Linked DNA regions of Homo sapiens. The protein of the gene in region 6 purifies or fractionates together with the protein of the main gene of each other region. This does not show direct contact. Each region holds a gene or a part of one and is shown on either strand. Other genes may lie near its edges.

Region 1 (3,500 bases), on a different chromosome or scaffold from region 6:
CTTGACCTCATGATCTGCCCACTTCGGCCTCCCAAAGTGCTGGGATTACAGGCGTGAGCCACCGCGCCCAGCCCTGGCAAAGATATTTTAAGCAACACTAAATTACATGTGCTTGATCATTTACCTTTAGCTATGTCTTCATCCTCTTTGTTTTTGTTCGATGACGTACCATTCTTGGCAGCAGCTGAGACAGTCTGTAAATGTATGAGTAAAATGAACACAACTATCTTTTCAAACAAAACACAAGCTCCATAATTACTTGCAGATGGTAAATTTTAAAAAATACTGATATAACTGAGTTTCATTTAAAAGTGAAGTTCTTTTTTGAGACAGGGTCTCATTCTGTCAGCCAGGTTGCAGTGCATGGCACAGTCATAGCTCACTGTAACCTCCAACTCCTGGGCTCAAGTGATCCTCTTGCCTCAGCCTCCTGGGAAGCCGGAACTAGAGGTGTATGCATCCACAACCGGCTAATTTTTATTTTTTGTAGAGACAGGGTCTCACTATGTTTCCTGGGCTGATCTGCAACTCTTAGCCTCAAGTGATTCTCCTGTCTCAGCCTACCAAAGTGCTAAGATTACAGGCATGAGCCACCATCACTGGTCTAAAAGTGAAGTTCTTTATAATAATTTTAAATAATTGTTTTCAAATACTAAAATAAAACATCAGATTTTTCAAGAAAACATTATAAACTCACACAGGGATCAAACTGGCTTAGATTTTGCATAAATGTAACACAGAACTTGGCATACAGAAAGTACTTAAATATTAATAGAATTTAAAAAAGACTCTTTTCTGATTGTATTCCCGATCTCAATTGTCCAAGGTCTCTTAGTGAGAGGAGCTCTGCTATAGGAGTACAGCTACACGAGGAGTGCCAGCAAGAAGTCATGATCATCACTGAAGAGAGAGGAATGGGGACAGAGACAAGAGGTGCAGTTCTAGGAATATGTGTGAAGTCCTTTTACTAGTTATTGTGGCTGGGTGGCAGTGGTCTGCCAGACATAGCAGAGAAGTAAGGAAGGTCATGCTTGAATTTAATAAACAGCATGTAAGACAGGTATCCAGGACTGATCCATCAACCGGTTCTTTACATAGATTTTTCAGAAAAATATGCAGAAAGGACAGAACAGGAAAATGTTTCCTTTTTATTACTTATAAGACTCTTATCTCAAAACGTTACCTTGTACCCTTAGGTCTGGTCAGCTATAAAGAATCTTTTTTCGGCCAGCGTGGTGGCTCATGCCTGTAATCCCAGCACTTTGAGAGGTCGAGGCAGGTGGATCACCTGAGGTCAGAAGTTTGAGACCAGCCTGGTCAACATGGTGAAACCCCGTCTCTACTAAAAATACAAAAAATTAGCCGGGCATGGTGGTAGGCACCTGCAATCCCAGCTACTCTAAAGGCGGAGGCAGGAGAATTGCTTAAACCCGGGAGACAGAGATTGCAGTGAGCTGAGGTTGTGCCACTGCACTCCAGCCTGGGCAACAAGAGCAAAACTCCATCTCAAAAAAAAAAAAAAAAAAATCTTTTTTTCTCTTTAATCTATGATTTAAAATAAAAGAAAATATAGTACTTCTCATCGTCTCTTTCCCTAGCCCATATCTTAATATTAATGGGAAGGAATAAGGTACTGAGAGCAAAACCCAAGGAATAGTATTTTTCTCCCCTAGACCTAAAAAAACCAGCCCACTCCATGAGTCAACATCCCTGCCTCCACACCCCAGTTCTACTAAAGCTATCCCTTCTCCCAGCAAATAAATTTCTAGTCTTACATTTCCATCCATCTTGTATGTGAAGCATTCACTCTAGGCATATTCACTCTTGAACAAACAAGTCTTGAGCCTCTCAATTCCATGAATTTGTTCATTTCACTTACCTCCTGATATGACTTCTTCACTTCTCTCTAACAAAATATTAATACATTCAAGTCTCAAAATTCTACCTCTTTACCTTCTTCACCATTCCAATCTGTAGTCACCTCTTTCTCTCTTTGGTATTAAGATAGACAGTATGCAGTCTATTCCCCTCATCCTGTATTTGTCACTTACAATCTAAATTAGTTATTTTTCACATGTATAAAGCTATCATTCAAATTTGCTACAAATTTCTTGAATATAAGGGGTATGTCATATACCTATGCCTTTTGCATGACTGTAGACTTAGAGGAACATTAAATACACTATGTCTGATTAACTTCACAAGGTTCTGATATGTGGAAGAAATACACATAAAAACTAGAATGTCTACTAAACGTAAGGAAGGCACTATGCTAGAGAGTCATTTGGGAAGTAAAGGTGGAAAATGATAATCTAGACATACCTTGCCTAGTCTTTACATAACATACATACCTTCAAAATATTATAGGGTCAACCATGGGTCTGAATAAATCTCTCACCTGAGAACCTGCTGGAGGAAAAGTAATTCCTTCTTCTTTCATAGATTTAATAGTTGCAGATATCAGACTAAACTGAGGGTCCTTCTGAAATTCTTCTGACCACTCCACCATTAAAGATTTCAGTTTTTCACATACTTTAGGATGTGCCTTTTAAGGAAAAGGAAAGGAAAATAAACAAAAATCTACGGTTAAAATAAGTACTTAAATTATTTAACAAGGAGAATTACCATCAAAATTCTCTTTAATTATATGAACATCAACAAAAGTCCTGAAATTTCTAGCCTAGTTGAGTAATTGATAGATGCCTATTTACATGTTGTGATATAGTTGTTTCATACAAAATGACTGTTTTTAACACCAATTCCTAAGTCTTACTATAATGACAACAGATCTTTTATATTCAGAGATTATTTCCTCCATGTTTCGGAGAATGGAGCCAGAGAAACCTGGATGTAAATCATGGCTATTCCAGTTACCAGCTGCATGACCTTGGACAAGTTACTTCTAAGTCTCAGTTTTTGCATTTATAAAATAAGAATGATAAGGGAATCTAACTTCCAAGAATCTAATGCTCCAAGGGTAGTTAAGAGCATTCAACAAGACAGTATATGTAAAATGCTTAAAGTAATGACTACTTACTAGCCCTCAAAAAGGATTTGCTATTATTTACAGTATATATACTTTGGGGAGAATAGTTTTTGGTGCTACACATTAAAAAATCAAATTTCAGAACAGTTTATTTCATTTCAATGATCTAAAAATGACTTCATTTATAATACTTTAGTAATGCCACATATAGTTATAATGACACACAATCTACATTTTTTTAATGACTTAAAGTTCTTCTGTTTTTAAAATTTACCTTATTTTTAATCACAGCACGTACTTCTGTTGCAAAATCACGGGAACATACTTCTAAATGAAATATCTTTCCACAGTTTGCCACACAAGCCCCAAGAAGCTATTAATTGAAATAAAAATATATGAATATTGAAATATTAACTTACTGTAATTAAAAACACATTTAAAATTTGCGTCAAATAATAACATGCCTTGTACTCACAGTTAGTGCTTGCAGAGCAACATGTGGAACCTTATGATT
Region 2 (3,500 bases), on a different chromosome or scaffold from region 6:
GAAACCATCTGTGTGTTAATGGACTCTCACTTTCATTTGACCTTTTTTTGTGTGTGGTAGGCAAACTTTCTTGACATGTGCTTTTGTTTTTTAAGACTGCTTAAAATGAAAATTGTGAATAATTTACATTGAAAATTGGTATCCATTTCAAAAAAACAGAATTATTTTGACTTGGGAAGAGTTTTTTTTTTTTTTAGCATACTTATGTCACTTTCACTCTCTGATGATTAATTCGTTTCTCAAGCTATTTTCCTTTTACACAGAACATAGTTTTTAAATTTTAAATAATTACTTTGCTTAGGATTAGTAGTCTTTATTTGCCCTGCGTACCTATATATAGTAGCATAACCATGTAAAAACCATGCATGGAGAAAGGTTTGTAATTATTTTAGTAGTGGTCATGGTAAAGTAGATCTGTTTGGATTTTTTAAAAAACATAAATACATATATACTTATATATCGTATAGATGTGTGTATGTAATAATGGTTTCATTCATTCCATTGGTCTGTACAACAAAAGATTCTGAAATAGATCTGTGTCACTGGTTTGAGGTACCTTCCAGCCTCTCCCAAATAGGAAAATAGAGAAACCACTAGTCTTCCTCCTTCCTTTTATGACCAACTGAAACACTGGTAGAAAGAAAATGTGGAATAAACCCTAAGAGTCCCACTTAGAAGAGCAGCTGTGATACAGCTGAGCTCTGCCTTACTGAAACAGCTGCTGTATTCACCATGGGCAAGTAGGAATGACAAGTTGTTAGTCATAAGCAATGCCATCTTGAGATGGATAGTACACTTGTTGGCATGGCTAAGCTAAAGCTGCTCCGAAACAAAGCAAAATCCTCTGGCATGACATAAGAGGTGGAAGAACTCACGCATTGTAAGTTTAAATGTGGCTTGATTTCTTCTCGCTTAAGAGAATCTCTGTTAGCAGTTGGTTGGTTGGTTTATTTATTTATTTAAACAGGGTCTTGCACTGTTGTCCAGACTGAAGTGCAGTGGCGAGATCATAGCTCACTGCAGCCTTGACCTCCTGGGCTCAAGTGATTCTCCCACCTCAGCCTCCTGAGCAGTTTCAAAAATATATAGGAAGTACTTTCAAGGCTCTGACTTCATGCAGTACTAGAGAGAATAAATACATGGGACACTGACAACATAAAAGCAAAATTGGAGTCTCCATAACTATGAATTTCAAAAGTTTGTCTAGTTGATAATAAAGTGAAAACATAAAGTTGCCTAAAGGTTGGTAGCTTTTTATATTAACTACTTAATTCCTGTAGGATAAAATGGACCAGTTGCTACAGATGCTGCAAAGTACAGACCCCAGTGATGATCAGCCAGACCTACCAGAGCTGCTTCATCTTGAAGGTAAAACTTTTCTATTTACCTTGCAAATAAAGAGTAGTTAGAGGTTAATAACTGGTGTCCTGTTAAAGAATGGGTTTTGAGGATAATATTAAAAATGGAACATTTCTCACTTCTCCTTGACCCAGGCTCACTCTCATATGCAGTTGAAACCTTGGGTAGAATTTGAATTCTTATAATTTTCTATCCAAACGAAGTGTTCTGTTCAACATTTTAGAACCTGGTAAAATGAAAAATGGCACTTTAAGATTTTCAGATTAATATTTTAGATTAAGTTGTCACCATTATACTTTAAGAAAATCAATTTTGGGTTCTGTAGACTAAGGTTAAAGAATGTATATTTTTATTACTCCAAATTAAATCTTTTATTCCTTAAATTATACAAATATCTATCAAAGGTTCACATTTTTTTTTCTTGTACTTTCTTATATTTCTTCACATCTTGTCATTTTAGCAATGTGTCACCAGATGGGACCTCTCATTGATGAAAAGCTGGAAGATATTGATAGGTAAAAGAACATGGGTGCATTTATGTTGTGTACCTTCTTTCCTGAAGCTATCACTGTACTGCAAAGTGGGCTATAACTGCCTTTTAAAAAAAAAATATTGTGGAGGAACCAACTCTCATTCACATATCTTGTGCTAGATGTGGAGAATTAGACTCATTTGTCCTTTTTTTTAAAGTGAGGATTTGATCGACCTTTGCAATATAGTCAAAAGGACCAGCGTAGATAGGTCGTTTTAAAAACAAGGGCTAGCTATGTAATTCTCTTTGCTGAAGTGGCATTACCAGAGCTCACAAATGACCCATATGTTAGTAACTAGGGAAACCAAGATATTTCTGGTACAGTCAGGTACGATAAGACGGAGTTCCCTTAGCACAGCACGTAAACCTTAAACAGTTTGGGTTGCTTCAGGGCTAAAATGCAGGATATTTTTGTTATAAGTGAAATTTTTAATAATGTCTACTAGTACTACTTTTTGCCATTTTTGATATTTTGATGTATCATTATTTAGAGCATTATATCATTTTAGTAACAGCTATGCTTCAAATTATTGTGTCATGTTTCAGAAAACATTCAGAACTCTCAGAACTTAATGTGAAAGTGATGGAGGCCCTTTCCTTATATACCAAGTTAATGAACGAAGATCCGATGTATTCCATGTATGCAAAGTTACAGAATCAGCCATATTATATGCAGTCATCTGGTGTTTCTGGTTCTCAGGTAAGCTTTTAGAAGCCCATGTTGTTTTAAATTCTCAAATGCACAGTGAGGTGTGGTAGCTCATGCCTGTAATCTCAGCAATTTGGGAGGCCAAGGCAAGAGGATTGCTTGAGACCAGGAGTTTAAGACCAGCCTGGGTAACATAGTGAGACTCTGTCTCTACCAAAAAAAAAAAAAAAAATTAGCCAGGCTGGGGCATGTTCCTTGGTCCCTGCTCTCGAAAAGCTGAGGTGGGAGGATAGCTTGAGCCCAGAAGGTCGAGGCTGCAGTGAGCCGTGTTCACACCACTGCAGTCTAGCCTGGGCAACAGCGACACCCTGTCTCTAAAATAAATAAATAAATAAATAAATTCTCAAATGCATTTGAGATTATTTGGAATAGCTGTTTGAAACTTTCTAAAACTAATGTTTAAAATTAAAATAAAGTTTAACGGAATTTTTTTACTTGGCAGTTACAGCATATAATATACTAATTATGCTAATAGTTTTTTGTTGTTGTTGTTGTTTAAAGGAAATAGCTTTTATACAGGGTTATGCAGCAGAATCAGCCATCACACTTTTGAAAAAAATTACAGATATATCCATCCCACTCCAGACCTATTGAATCAGAATCCTCAGGGTTGAGGCCCTTTTTTTTTTTTTTTTTTTTTTTTTTTGAGGCGGAGTCTCACTCCGTGGCCCAGGCTGGAGTGCAGTGCTGCAATCTCAGCTCACTGCAAGCTCCGCCTTCCGGGTTCTCGCCATTCTCCTGCCTCAGCCTCCTGAGTAGCTGGGACTACAGGCGCCCGTCACCACGCCAGGCTAATTTTTTTGTATTTTTAGTAGAGACGGGGTTTCGCCGTGTTAGCCAGGTTGGCCTTGATCTCCTGACCTCGTGATCCACCCGCCTCGGCCTCCCAAAGTGCTGGGA
Region 3 (3,500 bases), on a different chromosome or scaffold from region 6:
TCCTTATCAGTACTTTTTATATAAAATGTTAACATATATATATTCTATTTATTCTATAACATGTTTCATTATAACTTAATATATTTGAAGACCACAAATACCCACACGTACATATTCATCCTGTTCTTTTAAATACAAACCTGCAACATTTAAAATTCACTTTTAGATTACAAAATAAAAGAGAAGCACACCTGTTCAGTTGTCATCTGTACTGCAGCATGCACTGGCATACTATAGCTTGGTCCAGCTCTTCCAGAGCCCCAACCACTTTCCAAATTGAATCCTAAAGCTATAATTTACAAAATAAAAAGAATAAAGCCATCAAATAAAGTAGGTTTTTATCTTTTATTAAGTAGCTTTTAAAATATGCATTAACAGGGCTGGGTGCTGTGGCTCATGCCTGTAACCCAAGCACTTTGGGAGGCCAAGGCAGGTGGTTTGCCTGAGTCCAGTAGTTTGAGACTAGCCTGGGCAACATGGTGAGATTCTGTCTCTACAAAAAATACAAAAATTAGCAGAGCGTGATGGTGTGCGCCTGTAGTCCCAGCTACTCAGGAGGCTCAGGTGGAAGGACTGCTGGAGCCCAGGAGGTCAAGGTTGCACTCAGCCACTGATCGTGGCCACTGTACTCTAGCCTGGGTGACAGAGCAAGACTCTGTCTCAAAATATATACACAAATAAATAAATAAAACGTGCATAACAAACTGCATTAAAAGCCTTGTATTTTAGAGGTATTTTAAAAGCTAAATACTAAATCACTAAAAAAACAAGTAATTCCACATTATTTGAACAAACTCTTGCCAAGCAATCCTTTTCATTCGCTATCAGAAGATTATTTTTGCCTAAAATTTATCAAAAAGAATGTTTAAAGTCAGGGGTTTCCAGATGTTACCATTAGGGAAAATTAGGGGAGGGTATATATGAGACTTCATTGCATATATACTTTTTCTTTAATTTTTTTAATATCCCCTCACTCTTACTGTGTATATTTTTATGTGTGAATCTATTTCAATAGAGGCAAAAGGAAAAATCAGAGATTTCCTCAAAAAGACTCCTGAAAAAAAGTTGTACCTTGGAGCCTTGAGCACAAATTAGCCAACAAACTCCAAGAGAGAATAAATGTTTCATAATCCCTGCATCTTACAATATCAGAATAATATTAAGTGAAACCCTAAACTTACTTTTTGGTGCAGGACCCAATTTAAATCCATGTTTCTTCAACTGATCTGAAACCGCTTTTCTATTTTCTTCTTTTCCCCAAAAAGTCATATGCAGAGGCATGGTAAAAGCATTGTTTGCACCAAAAGGAACTACCCTATTATATTTGGGAGAAAAAGAAAGGGAAATCAGAAGCATTACTTTTTATCCCCACTAAGAATTAGTTCAATATTTTAAGTGTATCATTTACATTTTACATTGAAGTAAAGTAATAAGGAACTAGTTGGGCAGACTTGAAAGAAAAAAAGGAAAAGAAATAGAACCATAAACAATCAGAAGGGTGATTTTTAGAAACAGAGTGCCAGAAAAAATTGAGAAAATGGAATAAAGCAGTTTTAAAAATGCAAGGATGGCCTGTAAACAAGATTGTAATATAAGTAAAATAAGTTAAATCAAAGGGTAGAGTTTGGCTAACGGAACCACTGAGGGTAGTAACTCATTCTGCTTGGAAAATGGGAAATGCAAGAACTTGTGATTCACTAAGTTATTCTCAATAACTGAAAAACCTGATAAACTGAAAAAGGAGAAAACAAAGTGAGACATTATGAGCATTTATTTTCTCTTCAAACTCACCTAGGATTATATGAATATCCTAAAAATTAGAATTAGAATATCAAGATCCTAAATATTCCAGATACTTAAATTGAGATCACAAGTACAAATGCCTAAAAGAGAAAAGGTAACTGAAAGATTGAAAGAGTTTAGAAAAAGAAAAAAGAAACAGGTGATAAAACTGGGAGAGCATATGCCCTAGCTAAAGGGAGAGTTCCAGTCAACTATTGTCATATGGAAGTGACAACTCATCCTGCATTGCCAGATTTCCCACTTGTCAAGAGAAAAATAAGTTTTTTGTATTTAAGAAAATAAATTAATATGTATAAAATGCGGACTTAGCTATTTCAATAATTAGTACTGAACGAAAAAATGTCTAAAACACTGCAGGGCAAAATGAAATTCACCTACATCATATCACAGAATACCAGTTTATAACCTCTGATATAAACAAACACTTCCAGGCTGGGCACGGTGGCTCACGCCTGTAATCCCAGCATTTTGGGAGGCCGAGGCGGGCAGATCACCTGAGGTCAGGAGTTCGAGACAGCCTGGCCAACATGGCAAATCTCTGTCTCTACTAAAAAATACAAAAATTAATTGGGCATGGTGGCAGGCACCTGTAGCTACTCAGGAGGCTAAGGCAGGGAGAGTTGCTTGAACCCTGGAGGCGGAGGTTGCAGTCAGCCGAGATCACACAACTGCACTGCAGCCTGGGCAACAGAGTGAGACTTCGTCTCAAAATAAATAAATAAATAAATAAACAAATAAACACTTCCAAATTCCTAAACCTAGGTACCAAAAGGTTTGGAGAAATGGAATGTACTTCCTAATATTTGAACCAAGGTCTATTTTCTCCATGGTAATAATTCCATAGGAAAATGAGAGGACAATTGTTTGATGGCTGGGGTAGTAGAAGTATGTAAAAGGAGAAATAAAACATTTATTTAACACGTACCAAAAGTACAGTGATAGAAATTGTTAGCATACCTTTATAGGCTCTAACAAGAAGCCCTAACAAGTTCAAAGATGACTATAATTCACAATTATTAAAACTAAATTCTGAAAGTACATTACCCTTCAATTTGTGCCAATTTGTTGTCCATGATATAGGCCAAAGCACCTGCAAGCTCTTTCTTTAAATGGCCAACTTGATTTCCATTCACATTGTTTACTTTAATTGCATTCTTATCATAAGGGTTATTAGGATCTCGTTGTAATGCAACCATTTCATTATTATTAACCTAATAAAAATGATAAACAGATAATATTACATTATAAATAATAGACAATAACTTTGTTATACTTTATCTGGGATTTCCATTCATTTTTTAATGCTACTGCTAAACACTGCACATAAGAAAAATATATTTTCTAGACACAAACTACAGAAATATTAATATATATTATTATGACTCCTTAATATTATTTTTCTAATCTATATTCATTAGGAAGTTAACAAATCCTTAATGTCTTAAAAAATAGTCAAATGTAAACTAGCAAATTCAAATTATCTAAAATTTTCAACATCATAACTTCTGAAAAATAGCCAACCCTTATTGAGCGCTTACTATGTGCCAAGCATTGGTCTAAGTACATTGCACAGACTGACTTTTTAAATCCTCACAGCTCTATTGGGAGGTACTATCATTATTCCCATTTTACAAATGAAGAAACTGAAGCACAGAAAAGTAACTTGCCCAAGGTCACAAAGCTAAAAGGTAGCAGAG
Region 4 (2,781 bases), on a different chromosome or scaffold from region 6:
GTAATCCCAGCACTTTAAGAGGCCAAGGCGGGCAGATCACCTGAGGTCAGGAGTTCGAGACCAGCCTGGCCAACATGGCAAAACCTCATCTCTACTAAAAATACAAAAATTAGCTGTGGTGGCACATGCCTGTAATCCCAGCTACTTGGGAGTCTGACCCAGGAGGATCACTTGAAGCTGGGAGGTGGAGGTTGCAGTGAGCCAAGATCGCGCCACTGCACTCCACCCTGGGCAACAGAGCAAGACTCTGTCTCAGAAAAAGAAAGAAAGAAAGAAACAGTACTATTTTAAGATTTTTATGCTATATATGTAGATACTATTTGCAACTTGCTTTTTAGTACACATCTTTAAAAGGACTGTACAAAATCTTTCCCCTCACAAAAAGACTTTATTTTTACCTTTAAGCTCTGTTTGTTTGTTTGTTTTAAGTGGTTTCCAGTAAACATTCTTTTTCTTTTTTCTTCTTTTGTTTTGAGACAGGGTCTCACTCTGTCAACCAGGCTGAGTGCAGTGGCACAATCACAGCTCATTGCAACCTTGACCTCCTGGACTCAAGATATCCCCACTTCAGCCTCTCAAGTAGCTGGGACTACAGGTGTACACCACCACACCAGCTAATTTTATTTTTGTAGAGATGAGGTCTCAGTATGTTGCCTAGGCTGGTCTCACTCCTGGTCACGGTGTCGGGATTATGGGCATGAGCCACCCACTCAGCCTCCATTCTTTACGTGTATTTCTACACATGTATTTCTTGAAGGATCACAAGCTATATTCACTTAAAGTCAAGAGATAGTGCCAATTTATATTCATTGAAGTACAGAGAAATAAGGGGGGAAAAAAGGAAGGAAAAAAATCCCAGAGTCAAACCAGAAAGAAAAAAGGGAAAAAATGCCAGAATGTCCTCCAGAGTATTTGTACCATTTACATTCCCAGGGGCAGTACATGAGAGTGCCTGTTATGAACATTTTAAAATGGTTGTCAGTCTAGCGGCTGACAAAAAGCGAACCTCACTGCTTTAACATTTCCCTCATTATGCACAAAGTTTGGAATAATTTCATGTTTACAAGGCCATCTTTCACAGACCGGTTTCCTTCTGTTAGGTCTCTTATTTACAGAAATAAATCTTTATATAACCTATACATCTCGTAATTCTTTCTCTTTATATAAAAGTTGCAAATATTTTTCCCAGTTAACAGACTTATTTTTAAGTTTCTTTATGGTATCTTTTGTCACATACAAGTAGAAATGTTGGGGCAAGTAGATACCATAAAACTCCGTACTTCCCTCAGTAATGTATGTGAGGTACCCTTTTCCTTATATGCCCAATGACAGACAGTATTACCACTTTATAATTTTTGCTACGTGACATCTCATTTCTTATTTTTATAGTTGTAGTATATACGTATATGACCCTAAAACTGCTATCATTTATTTTCTAAAATTATAAAATATCATACTTTGTGTATTCTGTTGCAACTTGTTTTTTCATTCAATTTTTCTAAGATTTATTCATGTTGAAATGATTATTCATTCAGTCATTACAAATAAACATTCCATTCTATAAATACAGTCACAATTTATGTACCTATTCTTTTTTCCCCCCATTTTTATGTTTAGGCTCAATATGTACCTATTCTGTTATCAATGAATCTTGAGGTTGTTTCCTGATTTTTTGCTGCTATGAAAATTCTTATACATACTTCCTCCAAGTTCCTCTCAGTCACACAGACTAAAACAGCTGGGTCACAGAGTATACCCACGTCAACTGTACAAGATAAGGCCTAATTTCCAAAATGGCTGCATCAATTTACACTCCTATAGTAGTATCTATGAATTCCTGACCATTGTTCCAAATCCTTGCCAACTCTTGGTTAGACTTTAAAATTTTTGCCAATTGGGTGGGTATAAAGGGTATCTAAATGTGTAGCATTAATGTGTATTTCTTTGATTACTAATAAGGCTGAGTAGTCTTTTATATGATTATTAACTACTTGTGTGTTTTTTTTTGTTTGTTTTATTTTTGAGACAAGAGTCTTGCTCTGTTGCCCAGGCTGAAGTACAATGGCGTGATCATGGCTCACTGCAACCTCTGCCTCCAGGTTCAAGTGATTCTCCTGCCTCTACCACATCTAGCTAATGTTTTAAATTTTTTTTAGAGATGGGGTCTCCCTATATTGCCCAGGCTGGTCTCAAACTCCTGGGCTCAAGTGATCCTCCTGCCTTGGCCTCCGAAAATGCTGGGATTACACGTGTGAGCCACCACGCCTGGCCTGTATGGTTTTTTCCATTAAAATGTTTCTGTGCATATTTATGGAGCACATGAGAAAATCTGTTACATGTATATAATGTGTAGCGATCAAGTCAGGGGATTCAGGGTGTCCATCACCTGAGTATTAATAGGTTTTTGTTAAGGGTGGTCATCCTACTCTGCTATGAAACACTGAATTTATTCCTTTTATCTTACTGTGTATGGGTTTGTACCCTTTAACTCTCTTCATCCTCCTCCTTGCCCCTCACCGTTCCCAGTCTCTGTTACCTATTTTTCCATTCTCTCTTTTTTCTTGAGATAGGGTCTTGCTCTGTTGCCCAGGCTGAAGTGCAGTGGTGCGATCATGCTGCCTCAACCCCCTGGGCTCAAGCAATCCTCCCACCTCAGCCTCCCGAGTAGCTGGGATTTTAGGCACACGCCACCATGCCTGGCTAATTTTTTATCTTTTGTAGCAATGGGTATGTTGCCCAGGCTTGCATTGAACTCCTAGGCTCAAGTGATCCTCCCGCCTC
Region 5 (3,500 bases), on a different chromosome or scaffold from region 6:
ACATTATTTGCTCTTATACATCAAAAAGAAAACTTCTCATCTTGGAAAAAGCATACATGGGTACTTGGAGTAAATATACTTTGTCTCCTGACTGTCTCAGACCACGAGACAGTAGCCCTGAGCTCCTTGTCAAGTTGTAGGCCAAGACAAACCCTTGAGACTTAAAAATATTGCTAAATAATCAGTGGAGGCCAGGCGTGGTGGCTCATGCCTGTAATCCCAGCACTTTGGGAGGCCAAGGTGGGCAGATCACTTGAGGTCAGGAGTTCGAGACCAGCCTGGCCAACATGGCGAAATCCCGTCTCTACTAAAAATATAAAAATTGCCGGCATGGTGGCGCATGCCTGTAATCCCAGGTACTTGGGAGGCTGAGACAGGGGAATCGCTTGAACCCAGGAGGCGGAGGTTGCAGTGGGCCGAGATTGTACCAGTGCACTCCAGCCTGGGTGACAGAGCGAGACTCCATCTCAAAAATAAAATAAAATGATACTTAAAATCAGTGGAGAGGGGTCCAAACATACTGCATATTAATTGTAGACATAATTTTAAATGAGTCCATGTCCTACCATCTTCAACTTCTAGGAAAACTAGAGATACGAGGGAAGAGGGATGGATTTGTGACTGTCAGAAACATAATCAAATATGTGAATTCAGATACATGATGTAGCATTTTCTCTGGTAACCAGGATATCAAAGCAAGTCTTTTCCATCCTTAGCAGTCCCTTGGTGGTATGATTTTCCAGCAACCTGAGTCTGTTGATTGGCTCTCTGTGCCTCCATTTTTCCTCCTGTTATGGCCTCTTCCTTCAGTGCTTCACAGTGCTTGGGGAAAAAAAATACTTCGCTTAACTTGCTGCCACTTCTAGTTAAGCTCTTTCCCCAGCTAAATGCCAAGAGGACTTTTGTGCTCACTACCGTATCCTCAGCATTTAGAATAGTGCCAGGCAACAAGTGGGTGCCTAGTTAATATTCGTTGAAAGAATTAAATCCATTTTCCTCTATTTTTCTATAGCCAGACATTTTAAATTTTTTCTCTGTACTTTAATGGATGCAGATAACAAGTTTTTAAGGTGACATGTCTTGAAACATATCAGCATATATAGTTTTCGTTCTTTAATGACCACATAGAATGGATGTACCATAATTTGTCTAGCCATTTCCTTATTGAAGATATTGCTTTGATTTTTTTTCCATCATACTATAATTTGCTTTGAAAAAACCTCCAGTTATAAAATAGTAAAGGAAGTGTTACAAAAATAAATGAAAGGACAAAGATAGATAATACAGAATGCATAAAAGATGAGGGATCAGTTTGAAAGTTCCAGTATCTGACTCATTTGAGTTCAAGAAAGAGCAAAGAAAACAGAGATGATGATTAATAATGGATACAAGAAAATTTCCCGGAGCTTAAGTGCCGCAAATTTCTAGATCGAAGGGGCTTTCTAAATGCACAGAAAAACTAATGATAGAAAAAACAAACAAGAAATGTCACAACACCAAGGAAAAAGAGAAAATCCTGAAAGCTTAGGGAAGGAGATGACGAGGGAGTGGAGGAAAGAATGAAAATAGGATCCCTTTAAAGCTGTATGAAACAGAATGGCATTGAAATCAGTGGCAACATTGGATGCTAGAGGAACTTACAGCAATGCTTTCAAGAGCTGAGAGAATTGCTAAATCAAGTGTAAATGTGGAGGAAAGACCTTTTCAGGCATGCAAGGACTAAGTTGCCAACCCATGTGCCTTTTCTTATATTACTTTCTTAAGGTATTGGGGATGTATTTCAGCAAAACTATGGAGTGAACAAAGAAAGAAGGAGGCATTAGAATTCAGGAAACAATGGCTGTAACCCAGAAAAGCAGTAAAGGAAAACACCAAAGGTGACAGCTGTGCCAGCAGATCTAGAGGGCAGTCAGCCTAGATTGTAATGAGAAGAAGGAGGGTTTGGAGGGGGAAGCCTTCTGAGAAAATAAAGGGGTGGGGGTGAGTTCTGTGGTACAGCAATTAAAATTGAAATTAAAGTGGAGAAAACCATTGAAGAAGGAAAAATTAAAACTCTAGGGAAAACAAAAAGCTCTTTGAGGAAGGAAATGTATTCATAATATAGTACTTAGTAGATAGCCTTACAGTCACAACAATATAGCACGGATTATTTGTTCAATTAAAAATAGGGATGTATCTATATTAGAAGAGTAGAGGGAGGAGATATTGAGGGTAGTTTCAGAACTACATCCTAATCTACAGTAGCATGAGTAAATCGATAATGTCTAAAATGGATGAGCCAAAAAGTTATAGGATAAGCACAATATTTAGAGAAATGCAGTTAACTATCCAGTAGCAACAACTGAGTTGCAATTAGTTACCTTTAGGGATGAAGACTAGGTGTGGGAGTCTTATCCAGACAGTAGAGAGACTGTTTTTCATTACAGTCATTACTATTTGATTTTCTAAATACAAGCAGGAATTACTTGGATAACAAATGATCAAATTTTAAAAACTAAGTAATACATGTTGTTTGTAAAACATTCAGAACACATGAAAGAGACATGAATGAGTGAAAAATCACCATAATCCCATCATTCAGAAATAACTGCTGGTTATTTTATTTTATTTTTATTTTTATTTTTTTGAGACATTGTCTCACTCTGTCTTAAGGCTGGAGTGCAGTGGCACCGTCATGGCTCACTGCAACCTCTGCTTCCTGGGTTCAAGTGATTCTCCTGCCTCAGCCTCCTGACTAGCTGGGACTACAGGTGCGCACCACCACACCCGTCTAATTTTTGTATTTTTAGTAGAGACGGGGTTTCACCATGTTGGCCAGGATGGTCTTGATCTCCTGACCTCGTGATCTGCCCGCCTTGGCCTCCCAAAGCTGGGATTACAGGCATGAGCCACTGCGCCTGGCCCCTGGTTATTTTTATATATGTATAGTCTTCAAAACTTGTGTATTTGTTCTGAAATATTTAATATTTTGAAACATTTTTATAATAATGACTATTGTACATTGTTGTGTTGGACCACACATATTTCACTAAAAATATATCATGGCTTTCCGCCCATGTTTATCAGTCTAGACCTCCATCAACTCTTTCTTATTCTTTAGAAACAGGGCTCTCATGCTGTTGCCCAGGTTGTAGTACAGTGGTGCCATCATAGCTCACTGCAGCCTCAAGCTCCTGGGCTCAAGCAGTCTTCCCACCTCAGCCTCCTAAAGCACAGAGATTACAGGCATGAGCCACCACACCTGGCCTACATCAACATTTTAAGTGATTGAATAGTGTTGTGTTTTACAGATGTGCGTGCTAGAATTTATCCAACTAGGATACTTCTAATTCTTTTGCATTTTAAAGCACACGTCTTTAGGAAATACCGTTGAAGAGGTTGGCCCAGACTGGTTTTAACAGTAATTACTTTCCACCTAGAATGAGAATTCTGACATTCAGGTTATTCTTTCACTCTTGCCTTAACCAGTCAGATAATCTCCCAGAAGTCTGGATATCAAG
Region 6 (3,500 bases):
CAGTAATTTTATGGTTCATGAAGAGCAGGTATCAAAATATCTCAATTTTGTGGCTCCTCAGTAACATTACAGGGGATAAGACAAGTAAAAAAAAGAAACAGAAAGTTATGGGAAAAGACTGGGAAAAAAATAAAAACATCTCTAATTCTGAAAATGCTAAAATTAGTACTTTCATCAATATCTCATACAACATATTAATTCCTCCCTTGTATATTGGAAGTCACTATGTGGGCAATTTTGCTGAAGTATAAAGCATTCCCTCTTTACAGCAAAATTCATTAAGTGCATCCAAAGTAAAAATAATGTTAAAAAAATAGGAAAAGTAAAAGACAGCAATTTTTATATAGGAGGTTTGTGCACTAGTCAATACAGCTTACCTTAAAAATAGTGGAAGATCTTTTTTCTGCTGTTACTTCCATTGGAGTAACATCTTCACTCTTAATCATACTGCTTGGTATGAGTGGAGTCATCAGGGCATTAGGGATAATATTTACCTTATCTAAATTACATCCAGTAGTTTTCATTGCTGCATATACACACACACAAAAAGAAAAGTTTAAAATCACAAAATTTACCAACTATTTCATTCTAAAATTTGTTATTAGCCATGATTTAAATGTCTATTTTTTTGATGCTACAATGGTAGCATGAGATACAAACCTGGTATATTAAGATATATCTTCCCTTTTATGAAGTGCATTGGCTGGGGGACCTCTGGAATGGGCCTGGAACTATAGCTTAAATATTAATAATAAGCTTAAGCAGTTCAATTACCAAGCTATATTCCCCAAGACGGTTCCAAGTGCCTTGAATCATACTACCCAACCTGACCAAGAGTATATTATAGGATACAGCTTAAAAATCTCCAGGAGGATAAAGCTACTCAATTACAAACTACACTCTCCTCTTAGCATTTAGCTATCTGACAATATAGTCTCAGAACTTCTTAAGGACTATGAGATTGTCAGAGCACTTCTTTCTTAAACTAAGTTCAAGCTTCTCATTAGAAAATACCACCCAGTGATTAATAAATTTTGCTTTTCTAAATTAAAAGAAAACTAAATTAATTAGAAAACTTGAATATGACAAGTTGACACATGGACACAATTCTCTTTTAGACTGGACTTTAAACATCTTTTTTTTTTTCCCCAGAAATAAGGGCTATTTTAGGTTTACAAACCAAATTTCCCAAGCAAAATGAAAAATTATTTCCCACCTCCTACTACCTCCATTTTCAGGAGTAGTTAGTTCTAGATTTATACCTAGAGGCAACATATAGCAAGATTCTACCACTTCACTATATCTACCTTTCCCCCTTGATTGCTTTTCTTTCTTCTTTTTTGTCTACTTGAGTCCGCAGTGGCACTCAGTGGTACCTACTGCTATTGCTAATGACAGTCTTCTGAGTTGAGCACATAGCCAAATCCTGATTTAAAAGTTTACTACCACTTGGAAGCTCTATGGAAACAGTCTTCAGAAAGCATAGCTGTTAAATTTCTTAATTTGATATCGAGAAGAAATCTTGGCTATAAAGAAGCTTTTAAAATGGCACATGGTCTATAAGTTGGATCGCTCCCTTCATAAATTTTTGTTGTTGTTGTCAGTCAATATGCTGCTGAAAGGCCAAGTGTGGTGGCTCATGCCTGCAATCCCAGCACTTTGGGAGGCCGAGGCAGGTGGCTCACTTGAGGCCAGCAGTTCGAGACCAGCCTGGCCAACATGGTGAAACTCTGTCTCTACTAAAAATACAAAAATTAGCAGGGCATGGTGGCACATGCCTGTAAATCCCAGCTACTTGGGAGGCTGAGGCACAAGAATTGCTTGAATCCAGGAGGAGGTGGTTGCAATGAGCTGAGATCGCTCTACTGTACTGCAGGCTGGGCAACGGAGCAAGACTGTCTCAAAATCTGCTGAAAGTAAATATTTTCATCTAAAAATATTTGCAATTTTCTTGTCTTACTTCAACTTGCCTCACAGCCATTTGGCTAAAAACCTAATTCCTATGAAAACTGATTATTTTGACAGAGGGGAAAGTGCTCATTTAACTTTTGACATTCCATGTTTTATTATTCTACCTAAGTAGTTTGAGAAATGAATCATTTATTCATGAGTTCTTTGGACCTATTTTCACCTAAATTCTAATACCAATACAATTCCCCTAACAACCAGATTTTTATTTTATTTTATCTTATTTGAGACAGGGTCTCTCTCTGTTGGTGGGAGTGCAGTGGTACAATCAGGCCTCACTGCAACCTCCACCTCCTGGGCTCAGGCAATCCTCCCACCTCAGCCCCATAAGTAGCTGGGACTACAGGCACACACCACCATGCCTGACTAATTTTTAAAATTTTTTTGTAGAGACAAGAGTCTCGTTACTTTGCCTAGGCTGGTCTTGAACTCCTGAGCTCAAGTGATCCTCCCTACTAGGCTGCCCAAAGTGCTGGGATTATAGGCGTGAGCCACCACACTCGGCCTACAACCTAATTTTGACTGAGACAAAACTTCAGATCATGCACAGGGCAGGCATTTAAAAGTAATCTAAGAATATCCCATAGAACATTTTGAAAAACCATTAGTGTTATCTTAAGTTGATCCTGTAATAGTCAACTACTATTCTTGCTTTTGAATTCCATTAGATCATGAGCTCTGTGAAGGCAGATGTTGTTATCACCTGTTGCACAGTAGGTAATCAACAAATGTTTGCTGAATGAATGAAGAAAATAATCTTACTTTAGCTTTATCACTGTCAATTTAGTTTGTTGTGGATTGTTTGGTTAATCCTATAAAAATAAAAATATGGGCCAGGCGCATTGGCTCATGCCTGTAATCCCAGCAATTTGGGAGGCAGAGGTGGGTGGACCACGAGGTCAGGAGTTCGCCAGCCTGACCAACATGGTGAAACCCCGTCTCTACTAAAAATACAAAAAAAGTAAAAATAAAAAAAAGCCAGGTGTGGTAGAGGGCACCTGTTACCTCAGCCTCTGGAACCCAGGAGGCAGAGGTCAGAGGTTGCAGTAAGCCGAGACCACGCCACTGCATTCCAGCCTGGGCAACAAAGCAAGACTCCATCTCAAATAATAATAATAATAAATAAAAATAAAAATATACAGTCTGTATTTTTCTTTTTAAAAATATTCATTCATTCATTCATTCATTTACTCACTCATTCATTCAATTAGAGACAGGGTCTCACTCTGTTACCCAGGCTGGAGTGAGTACCTGCAGCCTCAAACTCCTGGTTTTTTTTTTTTTTTTTTTTTTTTGAGACGGAGTCTCGCTCTGTCGCCCAGGCGGGACTGCGGACTGCAGTGGCGCAATCTCGGCTCACTGCAAGCTCCGCTTCCCGGGTTCACGCCATTCTCCTGCCTCAGCCTCCCGAGTAGCTGGGACTACAGGCGCCCGCCACCGCGCCCGGCTAATTTTTTTTGTATTTTTAGTAGAGACGGGGTTTCACCTTGTTAGCCAGGATGGTCTCGATCTCCTGACCTCATGATCCACCC

What was found.
Region 1: the proteins of NFAT5 (region 6) and STAM2 purify together in Homo sapiens (affinity purification with western blotting, with the first as the bait; one study listed by BioGRID). This does not show direct contact.
Region 2: the proteins of NFAT5 (region 6) and STAM purify together in Homo sapiens (affinity purification with western blotting, with the first as the bait; one study listed by BioGRID). This does not show direct contact.
Region 3: the proteins of NFAT5 (region 6) and HLTF purify together in Homo sapiens (affinity purification with western blotting, with the first as the bait; one study listed by BioGRID). This does not show direct contact.
Region 4: the proteins of NFAT5 (region 6) and ATF1 purify together in Homo sapiens (co-immunoprecipitation; one large-scale study listed by IntAct). This does not show direct contact.
Region 5: the proteins of NFAT5 (region 6) and WDR48 purify together in Homo sapiens (affinity purification with western blotting, with the first as the bait; one study listed by BioGRID). This does not show direct contact.

Annotation. Positions count from the first base shown.
Region 1 is NC_000002.12:152,144,764-152,148,263, forward strand, and holds part of STAM2 (signal transducing adapter molecule 2), read right to left. Parts: coding exon 3,462-3,500; intron 3,360-3,461; coding exon 3,261-3,359; intron 2,546-3,260; coding exon 2,399-2,545; intron 195-2,398; coding exon 125-194; intron 1-124.
Region 2 is NC_000010.11:17,703,151-17,706,650, forward strand, and holds part of STAM (signal transducing adapter molecule 1), read left to right. Parts: intron 1-1,280; coding exon 1,281-1,368; intron 1,369-1,819; coding exon 1,820-1,874; intron 1,875-2,437; coding exon 2,438-2,591; intron 2,592-3,500. UniProt on the Homo sapiens protein: Involved in intracellular signal transduction mediated by cytokines and growth factors. Upon IL-2 and GM-CSL stimulation, it plays a role in signaling leading to DNA synthesis and MYC induction. May also play a role in T-cell development.
Region 3 is NC_000003.12:149,073,034-149,076,533, forward strand, and holds part of HLTF (helicase-like transcription factor), read right to left. Parts: intron 3,015-3,500; coding exon 2,848-3,014; intron 1,316-2,847; coding exon 1,182-1,315; intron 290-1,181; coding exon 192-289; intron 1-191. UniProt on the Homo sapiens protein: Has both helicase and E3 ubiquitin ligase activities. Possesses intrinsic ATP-dependent nucleosome-remodeling activity; This activity may be required for transcriptional activation or repression of specific target promoters.
Region 4 is NC_000012.12:50,816,101-50,818,881, reverse strand, and holds part of ATF1 (cyclic AMP-dependent transcription factor ATF-1), read right to left. Parts: intron 1-2,781.
Region 5 is NC_000003.12:39,055,016-39,058,515, forward strand, and holds part of WDR48 (WD repeat-containing protein 48), read left to right. Parts: intron 1-3,500. UniProt on the Homo sapiens protein: Regulator of deubiquitinating complexes, which acts as a strong activator of USP1, USP12 and USP46. Enhances the USP1-mediated deubiquitination of FANCD2; USP1 being almost inactive by itself.
Region 6 is NC_000016.10:69,687,966-69,691,465, reverse strand, and holds part of NFAT5 (nuclear factor of activated T-cells 5), read right to left. Parts: intron 527-3,500; coding exon 378-526; intron 1-377. UniProt on the Homo sapiens protein: Transcription factor involved, among others, in the transcriptional regulation of osmoprotective and inflammatory genes. Binds the DNA consensus sequence 5'-[ACT][AG]TGGAAA[CAT]A[TA][ATC][CA][ATG][GT][GAC][CG][CT]-3'.